Linked DNA regions of Homo sapiens: all the other regions are linked to region 3. The links come from fine-mapping of genetic effects on gene expression. A gene starts in region 3. Each other region holds a variant in brackets. All regions are shown on one strand. Distances are between the middles of the regions. Region 1 overlaps CAMTA1 (calmodulin binding transcription activator 1). Region 2 holds the start of LOC105376689 (translation initiation factor IF-2). Region 3 holds the start of CAMTA1 (calmodulin binding transcription activator 1). Region 4 overlaps CAMTA1 (calmodulin binding transcription activator 1).

Evidence for each region. PIP is the estimated chance that this variant, and not a neighbour inherited with it, causes the effect. A credible set is the group of variants that fine-mapping cannot tell apart.
Region 1: its variant is the best candidate, but not a certain one, in a credible set for the expression of CAMTA1 in prefrontal cortex (CommonMind, PIP 0.72).
Region 2: its variant is the best candidate, but not a certain one, in a credible set for the expression of CAMTA1 in cerebellum (GTEx, PIP 0.81).
Region 4: its variant is the best candidate, but not a certain one, in a credible set for the expression of CAMTA1 in whole blood (INTERVAL, PIP 0.61).

The regions. Positions count from the first base shown.
Region 1 is chr1:7,720,779-7,728,883 of GRCh38, forward strand. All of the region lies in intron 11 of CAMTA1 (calmodulin binding transcription activator 1), which reads left to right. Among named protein-coding and RNA genes, the nearest start is that of VAMP3, 46 kb to the right of the region's middle. The variant A/C (reference allele first, on the strand shown) is at 3,557.
Region 2 is chr1:7,702,918-7,711,022 of GRCh38, forward strand. All of the region lies in intron 11 of CAMTA1 (calmodulin binding transcription activator 1), which reads left to right. It overlaps LOC105376689 (translation initiation factor IF-2), which reads right to left and starts at 1,645. Exons shown (of 5, transcript NR_188653.1): 1 at 431-1,645; 2 at 194-313. RefSeq lists a silencer at 1,566-1,985. The variant T/A (reference allele first, on the strand shown) is at 4,487.
Region 3 is chr1:6,780,476-6,788,580 of GRCh38, forward strand. CAMTA1 (calmodulin binding transcription activator 1) reads left to right here and starts at 4,979. Exons shown (of 23, transcript NM_015215.4): 1 at 4,979-5,100. The coding sequence starts at 5,056. It overlaps CAMTA1-DT (CAMTA1 divergent transcript), which reads right to left and starts at 4,505. Exons shown (of 3, transcript NR_149049.1): 1 at 4,183-4,505; 2 at 3,674-3,748; 3 at 3,417-3,570. RefSeq lists enhancers at 3,345-4,021, 4,022-4,696 and silencers at 3,822-3,881, 3,962-4,021, 4,152-4,561, 4,902-5,061, 5,272-5,541 and 1 more.
Region 4 is chr1:6,879,500-6,887,604 of GRCh38, forward strand. The region is part of intron 3 of CAMTA1 (calmodulin binding transcription activator 1); the gene reads left to right. Among named protein-coding and RNA genes, the nearest start is that of CAMTA1, 98 kb to the left of the region's middle. The variant G/T (reference allele first, on the strand shown) is at 4,537.

The sequences.
Region 1 (8,105 bases), 940 kb after region 3:
AGCCTTGCTTCCAGAGTCTTCACTGTAGCTGCGTGGTTTCCTTCCCTGAGCTTAAAGCAGATGGCAGCCAGCCGGGCAGACACTTGCTTTCCAAGTCAGCTCTGCTGGCCTTGGATCACTTTGACCATCCTCTCTTGCCCCTGGACAGGTGATAAAGCTGCTCACTGGTATATGAGCCACCTGGACTGCACCTGGGGAGCGGAGGCTGCTCAGGGTTCTTGCCCCAGAGTTTGGATGACCTCATCAATAAATAGGCTCCCAGGAGCTTAAATTAGAAAATAATCCTTTCCACATGCACTCACTTTCTGAATGGTGCTAGGGATACAAGACAAGGTCCCTGCTTTCAAAAAGCTCACATTCTAGCCTCTAGCAGGAATGACACCTAGGAAAAGAACTATCCCTTCATTGGCTCAGTACTGTTAGGACCCAGGGCAAAATGTGGAAGGTTTACCAGGCATAGCAGAAAGAACACTGGTCTGGAGTCCAGTCTGTGTTCAAATCTCTGCCCTGATACTTACAAGTGGTATGCTCTTGGGTAAGTAACAAATTTTCTTAGCATCAGCTTCCTCATCCGAAAATGAAGGGGAAAATCTTTATTTCAGAGTCATTTTGAGGATTAGACATAATCCATGTAAAATGTCTGGCTTACTGTAGATGTCCAGTAGCTGCTATTATTATTATTAATAATATTGGAGTGATGTCTGAGCCACACTCTGAAGAGTTAAGAAGTTCACCAGGTGGATGAGGAGAAAGGTTGGCCTCGGCAGAGGCCCAGAGGTAAGTAAAATTCCTGGTCGTGAGCCAGGAATTTTGGAGAACATTGAGTTATGAGAGAACCCTAGAAACGTAGCCTGGGATGGTTGGTAAAGAACAGTCCATTCTGTGTCACAACAAAGAGTTTACATTTTATTTTGTATGTTCAGGAGGAGGGATTTATTTTACCTTATTTTTATTTATTTATTTTTTTGAGACAGAGTCTCACTCCATCGCCCAGGCTGGAGTGCAGTGTATTTTTATTAGAGATGGGGTTTCGCCATGTTGGCCAGGCTGGTCTTGAACTCCCGACCTCAGGTGATCCGCCCACCTCAGCCTCCCACAGTGTTGGGATTACAAGTGTGAGCCACCACGCCCAGACAGAGGAGGGACTTAATTTTTTAAACTAAATTATCTGATAAAATATCAGGAACCATCTCCTGGTGTATTGCTCAGTACAACCAGGAAAATTGATTAGATTTGAAGATTGAAAGTGAGTTGTGTAAAATCCAGAGGAAGCAGTAGGTGCTGCTGGGGCCTGAGGGCCTGGGAAATCTGGCTAGGAGCTGGTTTCCTGGCATAGACACTTTCTCACTCACAGCAGACGCCCAGACACTCGGGATTCTCCACTTTTACAGCAGCAAATCCCAGCCCTTCTAAACTTAGAACACACTGTGGGTGTCTGATTTCATGAAATTGTCTCTGTCTTTAAAACATTGCTAAGGAATTTTAAACATTTAAATGAATATTAATTTGGGACATTTTAAAGTGAGTCCCTTTGAAGGTTAGGAACCCCTGTCAGAGAAAGAGGAAAAGATGTCCCATGACTGTGCTGTGTGACACTTCGTGGAACAGCTGTGATGGAGAGGCTAGGATGGGGTCGACCCAGCAAAAGAAAAGGGAATCTGAAGCCCCAACTAACCATTCCTTGACCCTTGGGCCATTGTTTGGAAGAGTTTTTTCATCTTCTTCTTGATCGTTGTAATACTCAAAGCTATTCTGGGATTATGAGTCTATTTCTATTTATACTTATGCTTTCTAATATTGTTGGAAACTAAGAATTGAAGTATAATAAGGTAAATGAATATACTACTATACTATAACCTATGCTTATACTTTTGAGATACAGGAGTTAAACCTGAAGGTCTCTTTTTTTTTTAGTTTAATATATCAATAAGGTTTCTTTTCAGCATTTCATTTATCGGTTTATTACAGCTAGGTAACACACACAGTTACTTTCATCATCATTTGATCTATTTTTAAAATGCCAGCTGGGCATGGTGGCTCATGCCTGTAATTGCAGCACTTTGGAAGGCTGAGGCAGGCAGGAGGATAGCTTGAGGCCAGGAGTTCAGGACCAGTCTGGGCAACATAGCAAGACCGCAGCTCTAAAAAAAAATACCCTCAGAAGGCTCTAATAAACACTGCAGTGCTATAGTAGACACAGAGACATCAGTAGGAACTCATGTTTACATTAGTGTGTATACAGGTAGATATATACATATATACGTATATTTCCTAGCTTTCCCATCGAGAAGGCCTAGAAGCAGTGATACCTCAATAGCAATGAACGCTCAGCACCCAGATGTTCATTTCTAAATACCGTTCTCCAATAAAAAGAACCAAAGCTCCACTCCTTAGAGAAATGGACAGTTCTAGGATTGGCACAGGGGAAATGAGAGATGAATCTGGAGCATCTTGTAATGCCAGAAAGGAAGGAAGTGCTAAAAGGAAGAAAAAAGGATGAGGGCACGTCAGAGGGGCATAAGGGTCAGCCGGAAAGAGCTCCTGATGGCCAAAGCTGGAACACTTGGAGCAACAAAATAAATAACAGTATCAGATTGTGACCCAAAGTTTAGAATAAATGTACAGGAGTCCATACTGATATAAATAAGTGATTGACTAAATACATAAATAAATAAGGACAAATCTTCCTTACAGGAGAACTCCAAATAATATATGTAGATACTCCCCCGTCTGCGAGGTGGAACTTAGTTACCCTCTTGTTGTTGGGACTGGACTTAGTGACTTAGTTCCAAAGAACGGAAAGAGAAAAATTGTAACTTCACAGTACAGCAATGTAGCAAACATTGCCTTAACCAAATGATGGAGGCTGACCTCTCCAGGACATCATTATACCTCTGATTGTATGTGATGAGCAGGGTGCCTCACCTCTGATACTCTTCCTAAAAACCCAGAACCCAGTCTAAGGGTTAGAAAACACCAGGCAAACCTAAATTGAGGGATGTCTCCAAAATACCTGACCAGTATTCTTCAAAACTGTTAAATTTTTGTTTGGAGATAGAGTTTCACTCTGTCACCCAGACTGGCAGGCTGGAGTTCAGTGGTGTGATCTCAGCTCACTGCAACCTCTGCCTCCTGGGTTCAAGTAACTCTCCTGCCTCAATCTCCCAAGTAGCTGGGATTACAGGTGCCCACCACCACACCCGGCTAATTTTTGTATTTTTAGTAGAGATGGGTTTCACCATGTTGGCCAGGCTAGTCTCAAATTCCTGACCTCAGGTGATCCACCGGCCTCAGCCTCCCAAAGTGCTGGGATTACAGGCGCGAGCCACTGCGCCCGGCCTAAAACTGTTAAAATCTTGAAAAGTAAAGGAATATGGAGAAACTGTCACAGATCCAAGGACACTAAGGAGACTTCAAAACTAAACACAATGCGGGATCCTGGGTTAGATCCTGGAACAGAAAAAGGACATTCATGGAAAAAGTGCTAAAATCGGTTTCAAGTCTTTAATTTAGTTAATAGCTCTAATATACCAATACTAGTTTCTTAGTTTTGACA[A/C]ATGTGCCATGGTTACATAAGATACCATGTTAGAGGAAACTGAGTGAGGGGCATATGGGAACTCTACGATCTTTGCAACTTATCTGTAAATCTAAAATTACTCGAAAAAATGTTTAATTTTTTAACCATGCTCCCATAGATGGGGCTGGGCAGAAGGCCCCAGTCTACTAGCTCAGGCATAAGAGAGTCATATTCCTTCAAAAGATTGCATGTATGGGCCGGGCGCGGTGGCTCACGCCTGTAATCCTAGCACTTTGGGAGGCTGAGGTGGGCAGATCACGAAGTCAGGAGATTGAGACCATCCTGGCTAACATGGTGAAACTCCATCAATACAAAAAATTAGCCAGGTGTGGTGGCTCATGCCTGTAGTCCCAGCTACTCGGGAGGCTGAGGCAGGAGAATGGCATGAACCCAGGAGGCGGAGGTTGCAGTGAGCCGAGATCGCACTACTGCACTCCAGCCTGGGCAACAGAGCGAGACTCTCAAAAAAAAAAAAAAAAAAAGATCGCATGTATTAGTTTATTTCATCCTCACAAACAAGAAGGGATATGTATATAAATATCCCCATTTTACAGATGAGAAAATTGAGGTGCAAAGTGGGAATCATTTTTCCAAAGTCACACAGTGACAGGATTAAACCTGGGGCTCTTATTTCTACTCCAGTGTTCTTTGCACTGTCTCAGAGCTGCCCAGGCTGAAACTGCTGCTTCCACAAAAAAGGAGCACAGGGAGAAGAGGTTCATGAAGAGAAGCTTTGAATGAATCAGGAGCCGGACGGTTGCTATGAAAGCCGTCAGAATGATTGAGTTTTTGTCCGGGGATTTACATGCGCGTGCATGTCTGGAAGGTAGCGGGAAGGAACTACTGCATGAAGGTGAATGTATCCTTCCTCATTCCCTGGAACCTTTCAGGAAAATAGACTGCTTTAGAGAAACACGAGAGGCGGAGACAGACACCTGGAAAGACAGCCCATGTTGTCAGCTGAGTAAAGGACAAAGTAATAAAGAGGTCAGATGCAATGGGAATGGTAGAGGAGTACTTGATCCGTTGCAGACAGCAGTGCAGGTGGCTGGGTTTTAAATCGTTTTCGAGTATCGCCTGGTCTGAGTTGGGGTGCTTGAGAAGAAAATGTGCACCCAGTTATTGTCAACAGAGCTACTGCGGATGGCTCTGGCATGGTTCACATGAGGTGATGCCTCACATACCCATGCTGGGTAGGAATCTCTGCTTCTGTTTGAGCAGGTGGTTCTGGGATCATTCTTAACAGGCACTTGGGTGGAGGAGAGAGGAGTCATTCTTTCACTGTGGAAACAGGCCAGGGTCTTAGGGCAGCGGTTCTTGAAATGTGGCCCTAGACCAGAAGCATCAGAACTGCCTGGGACCTTGTTAGCAATGCAGCCTCTGGGTCTCACTCAGACCCACTGGACCAAAACTCTGGGAATAGGGCCCAGCAGTCTGTCTTAAGAAGCCCTCCTAAAGTTTGAGAACCTCTGGTCTAGAGGAATGGTCACTGGGATGAGCAGAAGCCGCCATCTAGGGCAGCACACAGCCTCCAGCCAGGAACAGGCGGGTGGGTCACACACACAGACTCACAGCCTCCAGCCAGGAACAGGCGGGTGGGTCACACACAGACTCACAGCACACGGCCTCTAGCCGGGAACAGGCAGGTGGGTCACGCACGGAGAGTCTGCCACTGGAAGGGAAGCTGAGACTCACACCCAGAGGTTCTGCACCAGAAGTAAGACATCATTCAGAGCTCACTTTGCCTGAGTCTTTAGATCCAGGAGTTATGGGACTTACCCAGAGGGGTTAAGAGTTGGGGAACCTCAGCCCAGTTGACACTTTATTTTGTATCATTTGATACTTCCTTGTCTGTCAAAGGATTTTTTTTTGCTTTTGCCTTTTCCTACTCTGCCCTGCTCTTCCATGCCCTCAGAAAGTTTATAGTTTCGCTGGGGAGGACATGGCTGATAGCTCAGTGTAGTTCTGGATCTAACATTCACCTATACACCCCGCAGGATACAAACTATATGTATTTATTTATAGCCTCCTATGTGGCCACAAAAGTTTGGTCATTGTTCCCACTTGAAGGTAGGGTATCATTGCAACTAACTTTTGTGAGGTTTGTATTGATACCTAGAAGGCTCTAAGTAGGTGGCTCTTTATACTGTTTTTTACTGAAGCATGTATGTGTAGAAATGTTATGTAAATTTTTATTTTCTTGGGTAAAATGCTTAGGATGGTGGTGTCTGTCTCTGGGTTATGCGTCTGTCATCCTCATGTCTTCAACAGGAGGCCAGCCTGTGTTACTAGAAACAGGCCTCTGTGCACCTCTTTTCTGTACCCTTGCCCAGAGTTCACTCGCTGCAGCAAATATAGAGTGCCTGTTCTGTGATGAAGCAGGAACTTGTTCTTCCGGTGCGACGGATATAGCCTAATATTTCAGGATAAGAACTAAAAATCTCAGAACCGCCAGGCAGGAAGTGGAGCTAGAGCAGCTGGCTTTCTTTGCGGGGACCTCTGGAGCCTCCTGTGGCCTTGAGCCACCTCTGAGCCTCATGTGCCCATGGAAACTTGCACTTGTAACTTTCCTTCTGTGCAGAATTTTCTCCCGATGGAGTAGTTCAGCTGCTTCACTTGGACTGTCCTAAGGACATCCACTTGGAAGCCCTCAAAGCTCACCCTGTTGTCTTTGTTTGAAGCATCATGGGTAAGAACTAGGACCAAACTCATCAGCTCCCTAAATCTACGCATTATTCCTACTCCCCTTTCTCTGCCTTGTATTAATTTTTTTTTTTTTTTTTTTGAGACAGAGTCTCGCTCTGTCGCCTAGGGTGGAGTGCAGTGGCGCGATCTCGGCTCACTGCAAGCTCCGCCTCCTGGGTTCACGCCATTCTCCTGCCTCAGCCTCCTGAGTAGCTGGAACTACAGGCGCCCGCCACCACACCCGGCTAATTTTTTGTATTTTTAGTAGAGACGGGGTTTCACCGTGTTAGCCAGGATGGTCTGGATCTCCTGATCTTGTGATCCACCTGCCTCGGTCTCCCAAAGTGCTGGGATTACAGGCGTGAGCCACCGCGCCCAGCCTCTGCTTTGTATTAATTTAAAACTCCAGGTTTGTTCGGGCTGCAGAAATTATCTGTTGGTCGACAAAAGAGGGCAAGGATATTTTCACTGCTGTTCTAAGTACTCCCTACTGCCTGGTGCATACATAGTAGGTGCTCCAGTGAATATTTGTGCATGAATAAGTGAATCTTTCAAATGTACTTATTTACTCTAATGTAATCAGAAATTCTTCTTTGCTTCTAAGTAATTGTATTCCCTATATCCCGTAATCACACACAGCATACAGTTAAAGCAATGCACAGCTCTCAATTTGCCAAATATTTCACAGTGTTTTAATTATCCTAATAAAGCTGTAAAACCAAAACAAGCGTAAAGGCGTTGCTTTTGGCTTGCTAGTGTGGAGATGTAAAGACCATCATTTTATCCATCTAAGCCTTACAACCTCAAGAGCTGGGCCCTGGCCCCGTGCAGAGGAAAGGACATGTGAGGAGAAAGTCTCTCTGAACTTGCATAGCACAGTGCAACAGACCGCACTCCCTGGGTGCCAGCTCAGTCATTTGCATTTGAGATTGGTTTTTTATTTTAATTATCACTCGCTTCCCCTTTGGAATTGAGAGGCTCAGAGATGCCGTTATGCATGATATGATTTTGTTAAGAGGCACATAATTGCTTCTGAGTATTTTCATGAGGTGCTTCTCAGAGCAGCTTAATATCATGCACTCATGGCATAGCAACAGGGAATGCAGCTGGGGAACAAAAGCTGGTCACCTCTGTGGCACACACAGAGTCACTGTGACTGTTGGAGGGGTTGACCGGGTGACGCCGTGGGCAGGGCCTGACTCAGTGATGTCAGGGAAGGTCTGTTTCTGCAGTGCCCGTGCTTGGCGGGGGGATGGGCAGGGGACAGCTGATGCGGGGACCGCACTGCAGCACACTGCAGCACAAAGCCACCTCCACGGGCAGCAGGCAGGCTCGCTCCAGGCTGACCACAGCTCAGAGAGCACCTTTGGTGCTTTTCTGCCCCTTTGTCTGCCACCGGATGTTGATCTTGGCCACTCAGTTGCAGATTGGTTCCAGAGTGCTCTGGAACAAGTGAAATGGATGCTGAAAACTCGTTAACCAGATGCAAGATTTGTAGACTTGCAGAAGAAATCACAGATCTGTGGCTATGGAGGTTTAAAATTCAGTCAAGTCATTTCAATGGGATGCATAACGATCTCCAAGTAGGTTCCGAGATCAATGGTTGTCTGGCTTAGCAGCATCAGGAATAAGCAGAGGAGTTTATAATATCCTGCAAAGGGCAACTGCCATGCTGCTTGGAACTGAACTCTAACTGAAGAGTCAACTTCTTAGGCTTCACATGGAAGAGACCTGTGATCTGCAAGATTTCAGATTTCTAACAAAGAGGCATGGCATCTGGAGTAAAGACACCAGCGCAACCTCTGTAGTCATCTTGTGTTTTCTGCTGGTGGTCACAGGATGA
Region 2 (8,105 bases), 920 kb after region 3:
AGGCACTGGTACATGCACCTTCCACCTATTGATTCCTTTAACTCCCGCACCATAGATATGAAGGCACAGACAGTGGAGCACACAGCTAGCAACGAGCCCACTCTGAACCCAGGGGGGTTGGTTTCCCGAGCCTATGTGTCCCTGATGACTACCCTTTCATTGCCGCCCTGGAAAACAAACAGAACTCACTCACTGTGTACTGCAACACCAACACATAACAAAGCTGGAGGTTTGGTTCTGCTGAGAGCGTCAGGAAAAGCCACTGAGGGTGGCCAGATTTGAGCTGGACCTTGATGAATGCATAGGAGTCTCCCTAGCAGATAAAGGGGAGGAGTTGCATAGCAAAGGTGGTGGGGGGAGCGTGCAAGGGGTCCTGCGTGGTGACCCGGGGGGCGGGCGAGGGGTAGACAGGTGCAGTGGGAATACTGACCTAGAGCAGGATTGGAATATGTACTGGGGCTTTGCCAGGGCAGGCTTCGGAACAGGAGAGGAACTTGCTCAGGTTTACAGTGGGTGGCAGCCCCCAAGGGAAGCCATGGACGATCTACCGGCATGGGCAGGACCCAGCTTGGTCAGGGTGTCCTTCACGCGGCCTCTAACCAGCGATTCCTCATTGGGTGTACAGGCTTAAGGGCTCTGCAAATGTTGGGGTTGTTTCTGTGTGCGTTTGGGTAGGGTCAGAAAAGAGACTCCGCCCCCAATTTCGAGACACCTTTTTACCCAGGTGGCAGAGACATGGCCGATTTTACAGATAATTGACTGTATCTATATATCTATATCTATTAGTATATAACAAAAACAAAATAGGCGGTCTCATCACAGGTCTTGGGGTCAGGCACTTTCTCTGTGCGAGGCCGTGGGACTGCAAACAGCACAGGGAAAAAAGAAAGCGGGATCCGCTCGGGACGCCTGAGCCTCGATTAAGAGGTGCGGCTCGGGATTTGTGGCCGGGGCGAGAGACCCTCACGCAGAAGTCCCCAAGTGCGCAGGGCTGGAGCTGGAACTTTGGAACGCGGAGGTTAGACCCAAAGGGTGGGCGGAGCCTGCACTCCAGCTAAGGGGGCCCAGCGCCGCACCCCCTCCCCAAAGCCGGAGCCGCCGCCACCGTCCCCGCCCACCGTCCTCCGCCCCGCCCTGGCCCTCCCCGGGTCCTCGGGCCCCGGCCCCCTCCCTCCAGCCTGGCCCCCACGCCTCCCCGCTCGTTGCGCAGCGCCGGCTCCTCCCGCCGGCTGCATTGCAGACGCCGCCGCCGCAGGGCGCGCCGGGGCCGCGCAGGGAGCCCGAGCCCGGGAACGCGGGCCCTCGGCGCGGAGCTTCGGGCGGCCCCGACGGCGCGGGGAGCCAGGCAGGGCGGGCGCGGGGCGGCCCCGCGGGAAGGGGAACGGGAGGCCCGCGCGGGGCTCCGGGGGCCGTCGGCCCGGGCAGCGGGCGCAGCCGTCGGGCTCCGAGCCGTCCCGGCCTCGAGGGAACCGTCGCCGCCCCATTCGCGGGCCGCGCTGAGCCGGGCGGGCGGAGCGGCGGGGACCGCGTCGCGAGGGACCGGGGGCCCGGCTCTCGCGCGGGGACGCCCGGGCCGCGCTCCGCCCGCAACCTCCGGCCGGGCCCCCGCCGTCCAGCGCGGCTCGGGCGCAGTTCCGGCGCAGTCCCCGCGCCGAGCGGCTCCGCGCCCCGCACCAGCCTCTGCCCGGCTCCGGGTGACGTCGCATCCTCCGATTGGACCACGCGGCCTGGGGGGCGGGGTCTGGTCCGGTGAGCTCACCGCCGCGCCCCGCCATTGGTCCGGGCGGCGCACTCGGGCAGTGGCGGGGAGACCGCGGTACCCGGAGCCCCGCGAGTCGTTCCAGCTGCGGCGAGTGGAGCTGAGCGGGCGCGGGGCCGGGCTGGGCCGGGCCGGGCGGGGCCGGGCGGGGCGCGGGAGCCAGTGAGCGGCGGCTCGGCGCAAGCCTGACGAGCAGGAGCCGAGCTCAGCAGGTCCGGGTAGGTGCGCGGCGGCGCGGGGCTAGGCGGAGGGCGCGTGCGGTCGAGGGCGGCGGCCGGCGGGGGCGCGCGCGGGGCGGGGGCGGGGCCGGGGCGTGGGGACACGCGTGCTCGCGGGCCGGGGGCGTGGTGCGCGGCCACGCGTGTTTCTGGCGCGAGTGTGCGGGGCCAGGCCGGGAGGGCGTGCGCGGACCGGGCGTGTTTACGCGCGGCAGGGAGGGGCCACGAGGGTGCGCGCGTTTCTGGCGCGAGTGGGAAGTGTGGGGATCCGGCGGGCCCGGTGTGAGGGGCGTGTTTCTGGGGCGAGAGTGGGGAGTGAGTGTGAGGAGCAAGGGTGAGGGGCTGCAGGGAGGGGTGCGTTTGGCCGAGGAGTGGGTGGGAGACACGCGTGTCCATGCCGCGAGGGTGTGTCGACGCCCGAGCCTGCGTGGGGCCCGGGGCCGTGTGTCTGGAGTGGCCGAGGGCGTGAGGGGCGCGCGTGTTTGTGCGAGGGGCGTGTGCGGCGGGTGTGAGCCACGCGTGTCTGGGTGCGCGCGCGGGCCGGATGAGCTTCTGGAGTGGTGCGAGGACGCGCGCGTGTGTCTGTGTCGGAGCGAGGGCGGGGACGAGCGTGTCGGGCGCGCGCGGGCGGGGCTGGGGCGGCGTCGGGGCGCGCGGGGGCCCGGCCCGGCCGGCGGCGAGTGTGTTGGGGCGCTCGGCTTCTCCTCAACACGGGTTTTTGGGACCCAGTGCCGCCTCCTTCCCGCGGCGGGGCCCGCGGAGCTCCCGGTTTCCCTGGGCAGACAGGTGCGAGGCGAGGTGCGGGCACAGCCCTGCGCTCCTCAGCGGGTGCGGGATCGGGCGACGGGGGACTGTCTCTAACTACAGACCAGGGGAGCGGAGGGACGCTCGATTCACCCGCGTGCACAGGGCAGTCCTGAAAGTGGATGGAAGGCTCGGAGGAACTTCTGAGAGCTTTGCTTCCCTGCAGACTGGCGACCAGAGAGCACTTTCCACGCGCAGATGGGCCAGGATAGATGCTCGGGGTGGCCCTTTTGCATTTTCGGAGCTCTGGTGATTGGGTTTCTAGGTATTGCGCCTCTTTAGAGGTGGCGCTGATGGCGTTCTGGTGTTTGAGACTTTTTCGATCTCTGTAGATTACTGCAGACATCAAAAGCATTTCTCTACAAATCAGGTATCAGAATAGATTTCTGAAATGATGATATTCTTGCAGACTGTCTTCTTAATCAGTTGCCTCACCAGGGAAGGACGACAATTTTAAAGTCCATTTTCTATTTTGCCCACTTTTACTTGATAGGATTTCTGCTGGCAGCCTGAAGTATCTAATCCCGGAAGCGGACTCAGTAAACGTGAGAGGTGCCCTCAGATAACTACAGAAATGCCTCCTGTGTTTGGTTGCTTGAATGAATGCATTATATTTTTTCCACCAGTGAGGCCAACCCCTGACTTTTTAAAATTGTGCTCCCAAGTTTTATCGATAAAATGTCTGGCTATTACATACAAGGAGTCTTTTTCTCTTACTACCTTGAGGAACTGAAGTGTTCCGTTTCCCTGCAGAATCTGTGTCTTATCGAGAAACTATTGCTGGGAACCGGATCAAGAGAAATGCATTATGCAGAAGCACTTTTCCTGCTGTGTGTTTAGAAAAAAAATAGTTATTATTCCAAGACCAGAATTAGACACTAGCAAATAAATTTGTTTCTCTTTTTCTTTGTATTAGATTTAGAGAGTAATAATGTTTAATGTCCAAGAAAATAGCATTTACTTACAGCGTATGCATTTCCTAAATAAATTTAACCTAGTAGTGAAAAGAAGCAGAGAACTGCTGTGTATTCCTGAGAGACCTTGATGAGGTCGTCCTGATTAATTATAATCTGAACAACTCAAATGGAAATACAGTATTTCATGTACTCGTTAATAACAGTCTTGTTTGTATTATTTAAGGATTTGGCTTTGGTGATACCCTGGCGGATGCATTATTTCAGGCTATTCTTTTTTTTTTTTTTTTTTGAGACGGAGTCTCGCTCTGTTGCCCAGGCTGGAGTGCAGTGGCATGATCCCGGCTCACCACAACCTGCACCTCCCGGGTTCAAGTGATTCTCCTGCCTCAGTCTCCCGAGTAGCTGGGACTACAGGTGCGCGCCACCATGCCCAGCTCATTTTTGTATTTTGGTGGAGATGGGGTTTCACTATGTTGGCCAGGCTGGTCTTGAACTCCTGACCTTGTGATCTGCCTGCCTCAGCCTCCCAAAGTGATGGGATTACAGGCGTGAGCCACCGTGCCTGGCCCAGGCTTTTCTTTAGTCTTCTATTTAGGACTGAACTGGGCCTTTACTAAGAGCTGTCACTGCTGCAGTGTATTCATGTGGGGCTGTTCTAGAATCCAGTACGTGAATAACAAGTGGAACTGAGTATTATTTACTTAATATGAGAAAGATAGCAAAGTTAAAGCATTGGTTGATATGAAAGTTTCCCGAGTGAAAGGTGTGAGGCTCTTTTTGAAACAGGT[T/A]TCACTCTGTCTCCCAGGCTGGAGTGCAGTGGCATGATCATGGTTCAGTGCAGCCTCCACCTCCCGGGCTCAGGTGATCCTCCCACCTCAGTCTCCTGGGTAGCTGGGACTACAGGTACACACCACCATGCCCGGCTAATTTGTTGTATTTTTTGTAGAGATGAGGTTTCTCCATGTTGCCCAGGCTGGGCTCAAACTCCTGAGCTCAAGTGATCCACCCGCCTTTGCCTCCCAAAGTGCTGAGATCACAGGCGTGATGGTGGGAGAAGTCCAGATGTGATGTATTGAATTACATTAAAAACCACAAGTTAGTATTACTCACATTTAACATTTCAGAAGTGCTTATTAGCCTGCTGGGTGATACCAATGGGTAGTGTCACATCATGTCATGGGGATGTTGGCGTTCATAGTCATGGAGACCTTCAGTTAGAGTCTTCTCCTCTTCTTGAGTGAATTGCCCTGAAGTCAAATGACCATCTTTTCTTTGCTATTCTCTTATGTGACTACATTTGGCTTAACATGACAGGCAGACAAGGAGATGCCGTCGCCATCAGGAGATAGTTACTCTTCACCCCACAGGCAGTACAGCAAGTGACTCATTAAAACCATGATATGATACCTTGTGAATAGTAAGTTTAAAAATACGGCCAGGTGTGGTGGCTGACACTTGTAATTCTAGCACTTTGGGAGGCTGAGGCAGGTGGATTGCTTGAGCCTAGGAGTTCAAGACCAGCCTGGGCAACATGGAGAAACCCCGTCTCTACAAAAAATACAAAAATTAGCCAGGTGTGGCGTTGCATGCCTACAGTCCCAGCTACTCAGGAGGCTGAGGTGGGAGGATCGCCTGAGCCTGGTAGGTGGAGGTTGCAGTGAGCTGTGATTGTGCCATTGCACTCCATCCTGAGCAACAGAGTGAGACCCCATCTCAACAAAACAAAACAAAGAATAGCCAGGCGTGGTGGCTTTCACCTCTAATCTCTGCACTTTGGGAGGCCAAGGCAGAAGGATTGCTTGAGCCCAGGAGTTCAAGGCTGCAGTGAGCCATGATCATGCCACTGCTATGCAGCCTGGGCAACAGCAAGACCCTGATTCAAAAAAAAGAAAAAGACAGTGGAGGGGGAGAATGCCAGTATGATCTTGTGTAATGCTTTATTTCAGTAAAGTTCCTTTGATAGACTAACTGGAATTTTAGTTTATAAAGTATCGTGATCCCTGTAATTTGCTTAATTTTATATTGTCTTATAAACATTGAAAATAGAGCATAGCTTTAGACATGATGTGGAGAGACTGGTCAGCTCATCTTTGAAGCACCTACTATACATCAGTTGCTTAGCAAATTAAAACTAATAATTAAATATTACTTTGAGGAAGGTAAAGTATACGGAGTTTAATGAGGGTAAATGTTTCTAGGAGTTAAAGTGCTGATCATAAAGCTACATAATGTTTTTGTAATGTGGAAGGTGATGATAAGTCATGTAAATAAATTTCTCCATTATATTAAACTAATATTTATCAACTACTAAAAATTAATCATTCTCTCCATTTTTTCAGCTTTCGTGTTTCACCTGACTTTCACCACCCCATACATCATGTTTCACTCTCCAGCTGGCCACACCCCATCCTCAGCCACACAGCATGAGCCCTCTGTCACACGCAGCCAGGCTGGTGTGCTGGTGTGCTGGTGTGCCTACCGTCACCCATACTCCATGTTAAATTCTGTCTCTTTTTTCCTTTGAGCCTCACTCAAGTCTTATTAATGAAGCTTTTTTTCTCCCCTCCCAGATTAGATTAACAGCTGTTTATGGGGTGCAGAGGGGCCCCACCTAAGCTGTATCTTCTACTATGCCTAGCATAATGCCATCTGGGACTTGAAGTTTCATGAATACTGTTAGTTGGCAAAGAAGTTATCCAGCGTGATGCTACTCATTAGATAGGGTGAGGAGACTGTAATGAAATGTGTTTCTTCAAGCCCAAGACAAACGTGATCCTACTCCGTGCCTTTGGTTCAGTCTTGTTTGTTGGTCATTTAGGCACAAACTCCAAATGATTTCCCATGCAGGTCAGTTCAAGGAGGAGTGAGAGGGTCGAAAATCAATCTATGTGGATGTGAATCTAAAGCCAACTGGTGGATGTGAGTTTTCACTTAGGTGGTCTTGAGGTGGCCCTAAAAATCCTGGACACTGTACCAGTGTAAAATAGGCCTGACACCTGAATCATTTTCCCAGACTGAGAATATTGGCCAGAAGCCCACTGTCTAGGGATGTGTGTAGGTAACAGCTGTTCTCTTTCATATAATACAGCAGGATGGGCACTGGGTGTTTCAGCTCTACCATTCACTCAGTGAGAAACCTTATGTAAATTACCTTGTATCTCCGGCTCTCTTACCTGTTTTCCAAACCCATTAGTGGTTCAGAAAAGCATGGTCACCATCATCAGATTTTAAAATCAGAGTGCATTGCACATAGTAAGCGTAAGTATTGATTTGGGAAGCTTTTTGGTTTCCATATGGGAGTGTGTGTGCTGGCTTCTATTTCTTTCTGTGGACCACAGTTTAAAAAAGTTGAAAGCCACTAGACTGGATATTTCCTAATTCTCTTTCAATTCAGCTATTCTGCTGTGATTCTTTTCTGTGGTATGTGTCTGTTATGACGCCACATTTAGCAGTCGCATAAGGCCTGAAAGAGTTAAGATACCTCCATATGTATGAATTCAACAGATAGTCTCCAGCCAGGCCAGAGCTCAGTATACCTTTCCTTGTCTTACTGAATGTTTTGGCAGTCAACATTGAATCAGTGTTTTGAATAAGCAAGACAGTTTATTGCTACTGTCATTTATCACATGTTTTGTAGATAAATTCTAATGCTGCAAGTGACAAAACTCCACCTCAGACTGGCTTACATAAAAAAGGGAACTTGGCCGTGTGTTGGCTCACACCTGTAATCCCAGCATGTTGGGGGGTCGAGGCAGGAGGATCTCTTGAAGCCAGGAGTCTGAGACTAGCCTAGGCAACATAGCAAGACCTCATCTTTAAAAAAAATTTAAAACAAATAGCTGGACACAGTGGCACACACCTATAGTCCCAGCTACTCAGGAGGCTGAAGCAGGAGGATTGCTTGAGCCCAGGAGTTTGAGGCTGCGGGTGAGCCACGATTACACCACTGCACTCCAGCCTGGGTGACAGAACGAGACCCTGTCTCAAAAAAAAAAAAAAAAAAAAAAGAATTTATTGACTCTTAGGAAGTCCAGAATTAGTGTTATCTTCAGCTAGAACTAGCTCTAGATGTACAATGATGTCATTAGGCCTCCCCCATTGCCCCCACCCCACTCTCCTCCTCTATGTTAATTTTATTCTCAAGCAGGGAAGGGTCCCCAATATGGCAGCAGCAAGATGGCCCACTCTGAGCTACAGGCTTATCGTCTGCCAAATTACCAGATGTCTCCAGGAAGACAGCTCTTATTTCCCTGTAGTTCCAGGAAATGTCTCATCTCTTATTGGCCCATCTTGAGTCACGTGTCTAATCTCTTGAATAAGGGGACATGGTCCTCTCATTCATAAGGCCTGGCTCATACACCCCTGGAGCCAAGAATTGGGCTCTGCGCCACCTAAACCGGGTGCAGT
Region 3 (8,105 bases):
TGAGACGGAGTCTCGCTTTGTCTTCCAGGCTGGAGTGCAGTGGCATAATCTTGGCTCACTGCAACTTCCTCCTCCCAGGTTTAAGCAATTCTCCTGCCTCAGCCTCCCCGGTAACTGGGATTACAGGCGCGTGCCACCATGCCCAGCTAAATTTTTATTTTTAGTTAGAGATGGGGTTTCACCATCTTGGCCAGGCTGGTCTTGAACTCCTAACCTCGTGATCCACCCGCCTTGGCTTCCCAAAGTGCTGGGATTACACGTGTGAGCCACTGTGCCCGGCCTGAGCTTCTAAGTGTTTAAGCTTCTGAAATGGGTTTACTCCATGCTTTCCTCTCCCAATCCAGTAATATGGAAGCTTCGGTAACTTCCAATTTAAGGAAGCAAGTCCAAGCACTTTTATTTTTATCACCACCAGTAATATAAACAGCCACTTTACTTTGGAAAGCTGACCAGGAAGAAGCCTCTTTTGCACCTCTTTGGGGTCAAAAAGTAACAATTTAATATTCCCACTATTTCCCTTATATGTTCTGTTTCTGGACAGTAAAATTCTTTCCTTGAAGGACATTAGGGCCAAAATGGGCAAGGATTCCGAGATTGGTACATCGAGCGTTATCTTCCAACTCTCTTTTCTAAATGGGCTCATTTAGTAATGCAAGCTGCTTCCTTTACTTGAAATGCCCATCTCTTGGTTACCCTCCCAAGCAAACAGAAACACCAACCAGCCAGCCCCAAAAAGATCTCATTCTCTAGCCCAGTGGTTCCCAAACTCTTGAGTCTCAAGATCTTTTTCCACACTTAAAATTTAAGGATTCAAGCTGGGCGCGGTGGCTCACGCCTGTAATCCCAGCACTTTGGGAGGCTGACGCCAGCGGATAACGAGGTCAGGAGTTTGAGACCAGCCTGACCAACATGGTGAAACCCCGTCTCTACTAAAAATACAAAAATTAGCCAGGTATGGTGGCGGGTGCCTGTAATCCCAGATACTCAAGAGGTGAGGCAGGAGAATCGCTTGAACCCGGGAGGCAGAGGTTTCAGTGAGCCGAGATCGTGCCACTGCACTCCAGCCTGGGCAACAGAGTAAGACTCCGTTGGAGACCATCACGGACAACGTGGCAAAACCTCATCTCTACAAAAAATACAGGTGGGCATGGTGGCGCCCACCTGTATTCCTAGCTACTCAAGAGGCTAATTGCTTGAGCCCAGGAGGTTAAAGCTGCAGTGAGCCTTGATTGCACGGCACTCCAGCCTGGGCAACAGAGTGAGACCCTATCTCAAAAGAACAACAAAAAAGAGAATAAACCCATTACATGTCAACATAAATCCTATTTTTATGAGAAATACCTACATTTTCTAAAATAAAATTAGTGGTAAGTGTGAGATTGTTTTAGTTTTGCAAATCACTTTAATATCTGACAGTAGAAGACTGCTGGATTCTTCTCTGCTTCTGAATCTTCTGCATTCAGCCTGTTGTGAGATCACGTATCTTGCAGCCTCTGGAAAACACTGCACACAGAGTGCAGTGTTGGGAGAAATTGACATATCATTGCTATAAAAATAGTTCTGAAGTCAGGTGTGGTGGCTTATGCCTGTAATCCGTGCACTTCAAGAGGCTGAGGTGGGAGGATCACTCGAGCTCAGGAGTTTGAGACCAGCCTGGGCAACAAGGTGAGACCCTGTCTCTACAAAACTTAAAAATTAGCTGGGCATGGTGGTGCATGCTTGTGGTTCTAGCTACCGGGGAGGCTGAGGTGGGAGGATTACTGCAGCCCAGGAGTTCGAGGCTACAGTGAGCTTTGATGGCACTACTGCACTCCAGCCTGGGCGACAGAGCAGGACCCTGTCTAAAAAAGTTTTGACTTTTGGGTCCCTTGAGTCTTGGGGCTCCCTCTGCTCGACCAAGGTCCCTAGAGAACCACTGTTTTGAGAACCACTGTTGTGGCCTGAGGCTAAGGTAATTTCAATGGTGATGGTGTTGAGGCCCAGGTGATGTTTGTGACCTTCTCCGGTGTTCCCATCGCACCTGTCCTGCTGCTGCTTATGTTTGTGAACCTGGCCAAGTTGGGAGTCTCTTGAAGGAAGACACTCAACTTTATTCACCTTTCTTTCAATTTAAATGAGTGTTTTAATGATAAAAGTAACATAGAGGCCAGGCGTGGTGGCTCATGCCTGTAATCCCAGCACTTTGGGAGGCTGAGGCAGGCGCATCACTGGAGGTTGGGAGTTTGAGACCACCCTGACCAACATGGAGAAACCCTGTCTCTATTAAAAATACAAAATTAGCTGAGCATGGTGGCGCATGCCTGTAATCCCAGCTACTCTGGAGGTTGAGGCAGGAGAATCGCTTGAACCCGGGAGGCAGAGGTTGCGGTGAGCCGAGATTGCGCCATTGAACTCCAGCCTGGACAACAAGAGTGAAACTCCATCTCAAAAAAACAAAACAAAAAAAAAACCAAAAAACAACAACAAAAACAGCTATATTATAGAAAATAGGCAATTAAAAAAAACTCACTTATAATCCCCCATACGTCATTTATTTGGTGTATGTTATCAGTCTATTTTTTTTTTTTTTGAGGTGGAGTCTTGCTCTTGTCACCCAAGCTGGAGTGCAGTGGTGCGATATTGGCTCACTGCAACCTCTGCCCGCTGGGTTCAAGCAATTCTCTTGCCTCAGCCTTCCAAGTAGCTGAGACCTCAGGCGCCTGCCACCTTGCCCACCTAATTTTTATATTTTTAGTGGAGACGGGGTTTTGTCATGCTGGCCAGGCTGGTCTCGAACTCCTGGCTTCAAGTGATCTGCCCACCTTGGCCTCCCAAAGTGCTAGGATTGACAGGCGTGAACCACTGCACCCGGCCTGTATCGGTCTTTTTTAAAATGCAGTTTTTTTAGCCTATCATCTCACCTCATAAATGAACACCATAATTTTGGGTATTGCCCCCTCTATCTAGCAATGGGTGATTTTCTGTTTCTGATGTCTACAACTACCATAATGTTCCACTGTGTAGATGTAACACAATTTACTAAATACCCAATATTAGCACATGTAGGATGCTCCCAATTTTTTGTTGTAGTTAAGTACAGTGATCCTGTGAAGAATACCTTCACACATACAGCTTTTCTGGCATTTAGTGTTATTTCCTTAGAACAGATTCCCAGAAGTAAGATCACTGGGTCAAAAGATGCAGACATTTTTATGGCTTTTAATACATACTGTAAAATTGCTTTTCGAAAGGAATATACTAATTTACAATGCCACCAGCACTTCTTTTAAGAATCCGTTTCTCCACACAAATCGTCAACATAGGTGCTATTAAGAATGCTAATCGATAAAATATTGTCCCGCCGTTGTTAAAATTTTGCAATTTTTGAGGCTCATAAAATTAAAGTTTCTTGAAGAATGAGTGTGTAACACAAAACATTCTTTTGGGACATCTTTATTTCTGGAAAACCTAAGACATTCTTACTTGTGAAGACCAGAAAAAGAACACATGTTGTTAGGATTGGCACAGAATTCAGTGTGACAGTCAATCTTAATGCCAGAACACTTGAACGAGGATTTTTCACTTATTTTGCTAGTTGTCACCAACAGTAGCAAAAGGAAAAATAAAATGCGGAAGAATGAAATGTTCTTACTGCAAACCGTACAAGATCACATTGAGGGGCTGGAGCTCTTACATTCAACTTTTCTTTCCTTTTTCTTCTTTTTAAACAATTTGCGATTGCAGCCTCTCCTTTTGTTTCCGGTATTACCTGCCCAGGAGCAGAATTCCTTACTTTCTCCGGAGAGAGGCCGGTCCCTGGGAGCGCTGCCCAGCCACCCGCACGCCTAGCCGCCCCGAGAGCCGCACTCGGCGGACCCGGTTCCTAGGCTCGTTCCCGGGGCACCTGGCGGGCGCCCACCTCCCGGGGGGCACGTGCTCCCGTACGCAGCGCGAGGGCAGCGGGTGCCTGGCTATTTATTAGGAAAAGCCCCGCGCGGACTCTCCGGATTGAGGAGGGTGGGAAACTCGGCTGCCCAGCGCTCCACCCGGGCGGCCGGGGCTGGCGCTTCTCTGCTTTCGGCCGGCGGCCTCATCCTGGGACAGGCAACCATGAGTCATCCGCTCCGCGGGTCACATGGGCAACGTGACCAAAATAAAGTTTCGGTATTTTAAGCCGCCAGAAAAGGGGACAACGGAGCTCACCGGGGGCGGGCACAGGAGGCGGGCGCAGGCGGGCGGCGCCGGGGCCGTGGGGACGCGGCGCCGAGGGGGCGGGGCCTGGCGGGAGGCTCGCCCCTCCCCCACGGCCGGCAGCGACGCCCGGACTCCTAGGCAGTCGGACTCCAGGGCGCGGCACCCCTGCGGACCTCAGCCCCGAGGCCCCCCGCGTCCGGCTCCCCACCGGCAGCGGCGGCGGGCTGCGGGATCCCGGAGATCCCGGCGCGTCCCCCACAGCCACCGGGACCCCACGCGCCAGCAGCGGCTTCCCCGGGAACGTCCTTCAGCCCCGGGAGCACGCGGGAAAAGCCCCAGCGTGCCAATGAGGGAGCGCCTTCCTCATGACGGTCACGCTCGGGGGCGGGGCTTCCCTTCGCCGCTCCCGAGTTCCGGGAACCCCCTTTGATTGGTCTGGACGGCCTGGGAAACACTGTAGTGACGCCCAATCAAAACGCCACGTCTCGGCCTCGAGGAAATATTCCGTGTCGGGCCCGTCCTGATTGGACAGTTCTTTCGGGTTCTGGCCACTAGGAAGCTTTGTTTAGGTCCGGAAGGCGGGCTTTCCTGGGAGTGGGTGGGGAGGGGGCGTTGATTCTTGACCAATCCTTTCAGTCCGTTGGGTGGTGACCAGCCAATGGGCCGGATGGATAGGACGCTCCTCCCGGAGAGTAGTGAGACCCCTGGTGCGGGGCGATTGGCGGCGGGAGCGATGAGTGGCAGCCGCACGGCCCAACGGGAGCTGTGCGTGGGCCGCGGGGCGGGGCCAGGGCGGGTGCGCGGCGGCGGCGGGGTGGCTGGGCCGGCGGCGGCGGCGGTACGAGGCGCGCGCTCGGGGTCCCGGTCGCGAGGAGGAGGAGGATGTGGCGCGCGGAGGGGAAATGGCTGCCGAAAACAAGCCGGAAGGTAAGAGCCGGAGCGCGAGGGGCTGGGGGGCGGCGCGGCGGGCGGCGGGACCCGGCCCCGCCGGACATCCCGGGCATCGGCGGCGCCGGGCGGGAGCGCGGGGGCGCGGCGGGCGGGCGGGCGGGCGACCCGGCCGGGGAGGGGGCCGGCGGGGTGGGGGGGCGGAGCGCGGCCGAGTCCTGAGGTGACTCGCGGGGCCGGCGGAGCGCGGCGCCCCACACCCCACCCCCGGGGGCGGGCTGGGGCCGGAGGGGGCGGGGGGCTCGCGGGGCGGGGACCGGGCCCAGCGAGGAGGAGGAGCCGGCGGAGGGCCGGCGCCTCCCCCACCCGGACCGGGCATCCCCGCCGCTCCCGAGCCCGCTGCGCGGCCCCCGCACCCCCGGCGCTGGGTCCACGGTGGGGGCCGCGGGGCGGAAAGTTTATCCGCCTCGGGTCCTCCTGGCCCCGCGCCCCACTGCTCCGGGCCGGTCCCCGTCGGGCGGCAGCGGCCGGCGCTCAGCCCTCGCCGGCCCCCTGCTCTCCGGCGGGCAGGGCCAGATGTACTCTCTCCGGCACCCTCTTCAGCCCCGTGGACACCTCCCTGAGCGGGCGGGGGGTCCCCGAGCTTCTCCCCGCCAGGGGGACCCCGTCCTGCCGAGCGTCCCTCGGCCGAAGGGCCTCGTGTGACCCCTCCCCCTTCGCTTCCCGGGAAGGGAAGGGGGCCTGCGCAGCATCCCCGCCCCTCGCAGTCGTTCACATCCTACTCTTGCCCTTGCACCCTCACAGCCAGGAGGGTGGGGTCTCCGTTTCTATGGCAAGTGAGGATCTCCACACTCCCTTGCCCTTTACCTTCCGTGACCCCGATCCTTCCTTGGCACAGGGGTCCGTCTGATCTGCTCATCTTCTTTGGATTCTTTTGGGGCCTCTGCACACTCTCCGTTGACCCTTTTTGCCAGGACAAGGGGACTCAGGCTGCCCATGTTCTTCTTTCCTCACCCAGTGGATAGTGGGGGCTTGTGCAGCTCTGAAGTCATTTCTAAATAGGAAAGCAGACACTTCTTCCAGATCATGCATACTCTTACACTTTGCTGGGTTAGGGCGAGCTCATTTCCTAAATACCCTTTGAGTTGCCCTCCTTTTCTTATGGAGACAACTGGACGTTCACCGTGCTCCTTTCGCCATTTGTGTGTCTACACTGACTTGTTCTCTCTTCTCGGAGTTCCTTGTCTGGGTGAGAGTGGGCGCCCCAATAAGATGTAGGGCAGGGCTTCCATTGTGCCTAGTGCTTGAGTGAAAAGGGGCCACACTAGTTGCTCCTGTGTCTGAGGAAGACCGGGGTATATTTTTGCCTCCACTTGACTCTTGTGTCTCAGGAGGGGGCAACCTTCATCAGTTGACACTACCTCACTGGGAAAAGGGTCATGTGGCCTTGTTTTTTGATGTTTTGATTACTGTCTTCTGTGCAGTGAGAACCAGACTTTGTCCGTCCCACACTCAAGAGTCCTTGAACCTTTCCTGGATATAAACTTCCCGATTGTTTTTTGAGAGAACTCATATCCTCCTCTGTGGCTTCTGCTTCGCAGTCAGCCATATTTAGTGAGCCTGTTACTTTGACTTTTTCTAATTTTCTCAAATTGTATTCATGTTGGCTGGGTAAGGAGAAGCCATATGCCTTTCCATTCAGAAAAGGGAGTGTAGACACCCGTGTCGCCCACATGCCATCCTGGAAGAGGTTGCTTGTGTGCTCCTTGTTGTACTAGAACCTTCCTTTGGCTCTGGTGTTGTCTCTTGTGGGATCCAGACATTTCTTTAGATCTTGTAGCTTTCAGAAGGGGGAATTTGAATGCTTTCTGTTTTTTGCTGTTCCGGTTCTGCTTTGGAGAACCAGATCATGATGCTATATTCATTTGTTTACATATACATACATGTAGGTATACACAGATGAAATCACATTCATTACATATACAGTGCACAGGAAGTTGGAAGGGTCAGATGACTAGCTCTACATTTTGGGTGCATATGGGGACCTTTATGTGTAATGATACAGATAGATATTAACGTTGTTGGTAACTCTTCAGGCTTAGAAGCAGCAGCAGAAGAATCACGGATAAATGGCCAATTCTGACTATTCTTTGGTTTGTAATGTGTACTGTACTGAATAAGCAGAACGACATCCTGCGTGTTCACCAAGTCCCTGAATGTGCGAAGCGTACAGTGCCTGCCCATACGCATCGCAACTTTGGCGGTCTGAATTTAGGGGTGGTATTCGTTGCTTGATTCTGCATAGAGTGAAAAGTTCTTGATTTCTTTACTGCAGTGTAGGGGAAAGAGATTTCGTGTGTTTGGACAAACGACAGGAGATGGGTGAGAAGAATATGTTTTCCTGTGACAGAACTAGGAACGAATGACCGTAAATATGTCCCTTTTGTATTTTGGCCATTTAAATAATTGAGAGAGGTTGTGAAATTAGCAAAATGTACCTGTGGAAAGGCCCTCGACGCTTCATGAGAGGATGGGGAACGTTATTCTTCAAGTTCTTTTCTCTTGGACAGGGGAATGATTTGAGCCCTGTCGGCTCTAGTCAGGTGCTTTGCCTCCTCAGGTCTCCCTCCCTCCCTCCCTCCCTCCCTTTCTCCCTCTTTCACGAAATTCAGAATGGCTGCTAGCCGCTGTCACTCAGCAGGGAAGTCTTACTCTTTGACAGGCTTAGTGTGGAGACTCATCCTCCCCAACAAGTTCCGTTGGGCTCTGGGGCTTTGGCCTTTAAAACTGTTCTAGCTCAGAGGCTCGCTTTGCCTCAGTTTACTGTGTAAGGAGAAGTGGCTCATCGGAGATTGGGTCAGCGCTAGTTCTGTGACTTCTGGACTTTGCCTTTCAGTTAGCATTGAGTCGTCCAGTGGGCCTGATTCCCAATGTCAGAAAGTAGAGCTTTTGAGCTCATTTTCTTGTTTTTGGTTTTAAATGTTTTTATGCTGTTCGTATTCTGTGTCTGTAGTCAGCTTGATGGGATTGTGTATTTTTAGGGG
Region 4 (8,105 bases), 99 kb after region 3:
ATTTGAACCGGACTATGAAATCTATTTCTTCTCTAATTTGGTTCAAGACCTGAACATGTAACCTTTGAGTATACAACACAGGTTTAGATTATAAAGGCTTCTTTTCCTTTTTTCTTTTTTTTTTTTTTTTTGAGACAAGGTTCTTGCTCTGTCACCCAGATGAAGAACCCGCCCACTGGAGTGCAGTGGCATAATCATGGCTTGCTGCAACCTTGAACTCCTAGGCCCAAGCAGGCCTCCTGCCTCAACCTCCCGAGTAGCTGGGACTACCTTTGCTGCTGCGCCTAATTTTTTTTTTTTTTTTTTGGCTTTGTAGAGACGGAGTCTCTGTTGCCCAGGCTGATCTCGAACTCCTGGGCTCAAGTGTTCCTCCTGCCTTGGCCTCCCAAAGTGATGGGATTACAGGTATAAGCCACCATGCCTGGCCCTGTGGGAGGTTTCTTATAAAGTGAAACCACTTGTTACTCAGAACGGCATTATGCCTCGCTTCAGGGTAGGAAATAGAGAAGCATCAGCAAACCCACCTGGAATGGTAGGCTTTTTATTTCTCTTTCTCTAGTAGGGTTTTTTTTTAAATTTTATTTATTTTTTATATTTATCTTTAATTTAATAGAGACAGGGTTTTATTCTGTTGTCCAGCCTGGAGTTCAGTGGCACGATGATCATCACTGTGACCTCAAATGCCTAGGCTTGCCTCTGGAGTAGCTGGGACCAGAGGTGCATACCACCACGCCCAGCTAACTTTTTTGTTTTTCTTGTATAGACAGGGTTTCACTATGTGTCCAGGTTGGTCTCGAGCTGTTGGCCTCAAATGATCCTCCTGTCTCAACCTCCCAACGTGTGGGGTTACAGGCATGAGCCACCAGGCCCAGCCTCTAAAAGTGTTTTTTTTTTTTTTTTTTTTTTTTGAGACAGGGTTTCACTCTGTTGCCTAGGCTGGAGTGCAATAACATGGTCTTAGCTCATGGCAACCTCCACCTCCAGGGCTCAAGCAGTCCTCCCACCTCAGCCTCCTGAGTAACTGGGACCACAGGGGCATGCCACCATGCCCAGCTAACTTTTTGTGTTTTTGTAGAGACAGGGTTTCACTGTATTGTCCAGGCTGGTCTCAAACTCTGGAGCTCAAGTGATCCGCCCGCCTTGGCCTCCCAGAGTGCTGGGATTACAGGCCTGAGCCATTATGTCCGGCCTCTAACAGATTTTAAGGAAGCTTTTGTTCTGTCTGATATCTGTATGATCATGGGAGGGGAGTGGAGTGTTCTGCCCACCCCAGAGTGACTTAAATTCAAATATTTGTTTGTTCAATAAATACTTATTGAATACCGAGTACTAGGCACTGTCCTAGGTGTATCTAGAATGAAGCAATAAACAAAACCATGTTATTCCCCTCGAAGAGCTTATTTTCTGGTTGGGGGAGAGGAATAATAATAAACAATAAACAAAAACAAAAATAAATAACAGTAATTGCGTGCTTATATATGCCAATTACATTTATTAACTCACTCTTCAGAATACTGAGGAAGTAGCTGCTGTCATTATCCCCATTTCATAGACAAGGAAACCGAGATACAGAGAAGTTGAATTAACTTGCTCAGTGTCACATAGCTAGTAAGTGGTGCTGTTGCATTCCTGTCCAGGTCATTGGACTCCAGATTTCATGCCCTTAATCACTGTGGTATTTTGTTTCTCTTTTAAAAAACTGCCCAATCTGTTTATTTCTAAAGAAGGAAAGAAATGTCAGTGATAGTGTGGTGAACAGTGCAGCAAGGTACACAGTGAGAGGGTTCTTGCATGTCTGTTTGTGCATGCTATTCTAGTGTGACTGAGCGGGTATCTCTCATGAGGTGAATTGAAGGAAGCAACACTGTGACCACTTGAAGGAAGCAACACCGTGACCACGTAGGTGTCTAGAGTGAGTATTCCAAGCAGAGGGAACTGCAAAAGCAAAGGCGCTGAGATAGACAGAGATAGATTTGGCAATGGCGAGAGAGAAGCCAGGAGAATGACAAGGAGGCCTGTGTTGCTGTGCAGAGCGTGGGAAGGGGCACGGGAGGGGAGGAGCCAGGAAGTAGTGTCCTGTGCAGCCCCGCAGGGCTTGGCACGGTCTTTTGGTTTTGCCGAAAGAGAAGGAAAGCCACCTGAGGATTTTTGAGCAGGAAAAAGACATGACAGAAAGGATCATTCTGGGCTGGGCATGATGGCTCACGTCTGTAACCCCAGCACTTCGGGAGGCCAGTGTGGGCGGATCTTGAGGTCAGGAGTTCAAGACCAGCCTGGCCAACATAATGAAACCCTGTCACTACTAAAAATACGAAAAATTAACTGGGCATGGTGGCGGTTGCCTGTAATCTCAGCTATACGGGAGGCTGAGGCAGGAGAATTGCTTGAATCTGGGAGGCAGAGGTTGCAGTGAGTGGAGATCGCACCACTGCACTCCAGCCTGGGAGACAGTGTGAGACTCTGTCTCAAAAAAATAAAAGTAAAATAAAATAAAATAATCACTCTGAATGTAGTGCAGAGAATCTTCCAGGGCAGGGCCAGCAGACCACAGCCCATGGCAGGTTCTGGCCCACTGCCTGTTTCTATATAGCTAGCAAGCTAAGAATGCTTTGTATGTTTTTAAGTGGTTGAAAAAAAATCAGTATTTTATTTCACATGAAAATTATATGAAATTCAAATTTCAGTGTCCAGTTCCAGTTCTATTGAAACAGAGCCACACTCTTGTGTGTATTATCTGAGGCCGCTTTTGAGCTGCAACAGCCAAGCTAAGTAGTTGTAACAGGGAGCATATGGCCTGTAGAGGCTGAAAGATCTATACTGTTTGGCCCTTTACAGAAAAGAGTTGTTGATCCCTGGTTTGGGATAGAAGTAGGGAGACCAGTGAGGAGACTGTTGCAAGAACTGATGGTGCCTTGGACAGAGCAGGAAGAAATGGTCATATATGGGTTATGTTTGAAAGGAAGAGCTGGTAGACTGTATTAATATAGGAAGAGTCAGGGATGATGACTGTGTTTTTGCACTGAGTAACTGGAAGAATGCTATTCTTCTTTACTGAGATCAGGAAGACTGAGAACAGCAGGTTGGGGAGGAGGGGTGAAGAGAATGTAGGTTGTGTTTTGCACCTGTTGACTGTAAGATCAGGTGGAGATGTTCAATAGGCAGTCGTATGTTTGAGTTTGTAACTTCAAGGAGAGGCTGAGGCTGGAGCTAGATTTTGAGTGTTTTCAGCATATAGGGGGTTCTAAAAGCCGTAGGACTGGATGAAATTTTTTAGGGAGTGTATACAATAGAGAAGTCCAGACATGGAGCCCTGGGACACCCAATGTTAAGGGGAAGCGGGTAGAAGGGAGGCAAAGGAGAATGAGAAGCAATCAGAGAAGGAAGACAGGAGATGGGGGTGTCCTGGAAGTGCATGTTTCTCTTTGCTTTGCTTTGCTTTTTTGAGACAGAATGTCCCTCTGGTCTCAGCTCACTGCCATTTCCACTTCCCGGGTTCAAGTGATTCTCTTGCCTCAGCCTCCCAAGCTGGGATTACAGGTGTGTGCCACCATGCCTGGCCAATTTTTTTATTTTTAGTAGAGATGGGGTTTTGCTGGGTTGGCCAGGCTGGTCTCGATCCCCTGACTTCAAGTGATCCACATGCCTTGGCCTCCCAAAATGCTGGGATTACAGGTGTGAGCCACCGCGCCCGGACAAGGAAGCTCATGTTTCAAAGCAGAGTGATATCTATGTCAGATGCTGCTAAAGCTGGAGCAAGAAACAGACGGGTTTCACTGTGGGCTTGGTAGCGGGGCGATCGTTGGTGACTTTGATAAGAGCTGTATGAGTGAAATGGTGAGAATAAAAGCCCAGTTCCAGGTGGTTCAAGCAAAAACGACTGGATAGGGAGCTGAGCTGGTGCTCTGAAGGAATTCTGCTTTCGGCAGCCTAAGTGTAGGGCAGGAGAGGGCAGGAGAGGGCAGGGAGTTGGATTTAACCTGGGATTAGGATTTTGCCAGGTGAGTACAGTGGAGGGAGGAGGCATAAGGGAGTTGAGCATTGCGCAGAAGAATCGATGTGAGGATTGAGGATAGACCATGTGGTCTAAGCCAGGCAAGGAGCCAGGAGGCATGAAGGAGCTGAGGGTCAGTAAGAGGTCATGGGGTCAGTGGATTCAAGGAATAGGATCGAGGAGTTGTTGGAGTTGGGATAGTCGAAGAGTAGATAGAGGGCTTGAAATCGGTATCATGGAGGGGTCAGTTTTGGTTACATCAAGGTCAGGGGCTCTGCTGTACAGTAGCAGTGTCAGTGAGTCACGTGTAATTTTTAATGTTCTAGTAACCATATTTTTAATAGGTAAAAATAAAGGAAACTAATTTTAATAATATATTGTAATATATTTTATTTTACCCAGTAAGTCTACATTACATGACCATGTAGTAAGTATAAAAATTGAGAAGTTACTTATTTTGGTATGAAGTCTTTGAAATTGGTATATATCTTATATTTCCATTACCTTCTAATTTGAAGTAGACACATTTCAGGTGCTCAGTGGCT[G/T]CCTTACTGGACAGCTCATGGGATGGTCATGGAGTGTAGTCCAGGATTATCACAGGGGAAGTGTTTAAAGGAACAAGGAGGTCGTGGTTCATGAAGGATTGGCCGTGTAGATCTAAAACCATTTCTCACTCCTTCTGAGGGGAGCAAGGCTGAAGAGGAAGGAGGGGACACCATGGCAGTTGGTAGAGGTCATGTGCTTCGATGGCTGAACCTAGCAGCCTTTTACCATGCAGAGAATTTAGCTTATTCTCTAGAGACACACACACACACACACACACACACACACACACACACACACACAATTTTGTTTGGCTTTGATCCACACAATGTGTTTTTAAAGATGAATAAAAATTGATAATATCAGGTATTTTTTAGCCTCGTAGGCCAGGAAAAAGTAAAATATTTTGAAAGAGTAAACAGGAGCGTCTCAGCAGCATACATGTTACTTTTCATCTTAATCATGTGAGCCTCTCATGAAAGCCTCCAAGGAGGAGGTTAATGGATGCCCCAATTCTGTACCTTTATCAGGTTTAAGCTTACTTCAGTTTCCCTTTAGTTTGTTGCCTGCAGTATCATAATTAACCAAAGAATTCTTCTCAAAAATTACCCTCAAAAATCCTACAAACCCCACTGTTAGGAAGCGAGCCCATTTTGAGGAAGTATTTGTGAACCCTGTGTTCTTGGATGCCTTATGTGTTGAAGGAATAATTACTTGTTCATTTTGTAGTGCTAAAATCCTGGGAATGCGCAGTCTAAGCAGTCTAGAGCATGTCAGTATCCCACCTTTGGAAATCTCCTAGGAGCATGTAGAGACTCTGGTTTATCATTAACTGTGTTGCTTTCCTATCTTTTACACAAAGTATTCTCCTTCCCGCACCATTGTATTCACATGACAGAAAGCTCAGTTAATGCCTTTTAGTAATAATGAAAGCTTACTCATTACATACATTTTCTTAAACTCTCTTTATTCTAATTAAAATGTTTCCATCTGATGAGGAAGTGTATGGATACCAAGAAGTGGAAATTAAGCAAGAAATTAAAAGAACATTAATGGCTTTCTTGTAATTTGTTTTGAGGTTTTTCTTCCTGCTAAATGGTGTTTTGCTTACAGAGTCACCCCTCACACAGAAATCTTTATGATGAATGGACTGGAATAAATCCCAGCAAAAGAAGAGCTATTTTATGATACCTCTTGTAAATTACAACACATGTTATGGAAGTATTTGCTTTTTTAAAAATATTAGCTTTTTAAAGGCATTGTTAGTATAATTAATTTGGCACACACACAATTCTAGTTTCTTTGAAAGTGAAGGTCAGTGTGTGTGTGTAGGGGATTAAGAAAATGAGAGTTCTGACATTTAAAAAATTATTTTCTATTTATACCTGAGTCATTAGAATGCTCAAACCATCCAAAGTATAACATTTAAACTTGCAGTTCATTCATTCCTTCAGAAATTTGCTGCTGAAACTTAAACTTTAACCAGCATAGCCAGCGTAGCCTTAACCAGGGCAGGTATTTGGTCTGCAGTAGGCAAGCCTTTGCCCCCATCCCTCGTCTTCAGGCTGCAGAGTCCACATGCATGCCATTGCTCTGGTGGGTTCTTTTTCTGGTCATTTGGACTTGTCTCTACTAATAAAGTATTCATTAACTTGAAACTCCTACCTCTGAATGTAGATGCAGGTGAAAGCAGAGAAATACCAAACCCACCCCTTCCTGATGAAGTGCAACATGCCCCACCCAGCTGCATCTCACCTGCTGCCTCCCCTCCTCCTCCCCTGATGTGTGGACACTCTTTCTGTCCGTTCCTACTTGCTGTTCCCTTCTCTGCACGAGTCCTTCCCCTGGAGGGCAGCCCGCATGCCACTCCTCCCATGCACCTTTTCTTGGGAACTGTGTTCAGTACAGCCTGTCCTTTGGTTCACTCTTACCCTGGGCACTGCTTCCCATGTCCTGTGCGGGCCCTTGCCATAGCATATTGTGATTTATCTCTGTTGGTGTCTTTACTCCACTCAAGTGGGAGCTCCTTGGGCAAGGGTGCTGGTCCTCCCTTATTTTTGTTTTCCTTGAGCCCACCATCTGCACGTGGTTATGGGTGGATGGATGGGGGAAGTGACAGTGGGGTAACATACCTTCAAGCCCAAAATGTAAACTTAATAAGTGTTTTGGAGGAAGAGAAGAATAAATACTGTTTTTGTTTATACAGGTCTTAAAATTTTGGTAGCAGAAAGCAAATGTGCAAAGAGCAATGGAAAACAAGTCAGAAGCTGCTGTCTGATTCCAGAGGAACTCGTATTTTATGTTAAAAAAAATGTAATTGACATTTGATTGCCTTGAAATCTTCAATTTGTTGTGCTGATATCTTAAGTAACTAATTATTTAGTTGAATAACTACTAGGGAAATAGGCCATAAATGTCACTCGTGCTTTCCTTGTAAGAAGCCCACAGCTCTTCTCGCAGCATGCTCTTTTCAGTACCTGTTCTAGGTACTTGTGACTTGTGAAAGTCACTGGCCTCTGCGCATTGGGCACAGGCCTGAAGGCGATGTTTTACTCACATTTTGTCCACTGGAATTAAACAGCTGTGCTGATATTCAGTTGATTTGAGGTTTGTTTGGAAATCAGTCCCAAATTTGGGAAGCAAATGAGACAGAACCCTCCACACCCTACCACATGCTTCCAGCTCATCCCATGAAAACTCATGAGCACAGTGTGGAGTGTTTTATCTACAGCCACTCCCTTTTTGACCCTTCCCCCAAAATAGTGAGGGAGAGAAATGAAAGAACAGATCTGGGGCTTGCCTTCAGCTTCACTGTGCATTTTTGGTCATTTTGGTCATTTTAGAAGTCATCTTTCACTTGTTAGGATGTTACATTAATTGGGAGATGCTAGTCGTTTTGTTCATGGAAACCAGAGTATCCCTTTGAAGTATTATATTCTTCTAATCTATGAAACTGGCCCAGGAAGTAACAATGGGAAGTGCTGGAAATGGAATTTAAGAAGTCCACCTTCTTAGTCCTGTGCTTAAGCAGAGAGTCTCTAGCAGGGAGCCTCTGCAAGCATTGTGTTCTGTTGTATCAATATGTACTTAGATATGTTAATCTGAATTAGGGAGTTGATTGTACATAATGACTCCCCTGGGTTGCTATGTTAGAAGAAAACCCAAAACTTAAGTAGTTTGCTGAATATGCATAGTAAGTAAAAAAATTCTTCCAAAATTAGTGTTAATTGAATCTGAGCCTTGATCTTCTTTGAACCTTTAATTTTTTATTTGATCTTTTAAAAAAGTTTTGTGGCCTCTTAAAGATAAAACCTACAACCCAATAAAAGTCATGCTGTAACGATTGCAAAAAGACCATTGTATGAGACCCAGTTTTGGATTATCATAGGCGAAGAAGTCAGACATATATGGTTGTATGTACATGTGTATAGTATGTGGGTGGGGGTAGATACATACCTGTTCATCTGTATACGTATGTGTGTGTTTAATATATACTTTAGTTTGCCTTTACCCAGATGTCTCCTCCTCTCTCTGCCTCTGGAAATGGGGCAAATTTTTCTTCAGTTAAAAA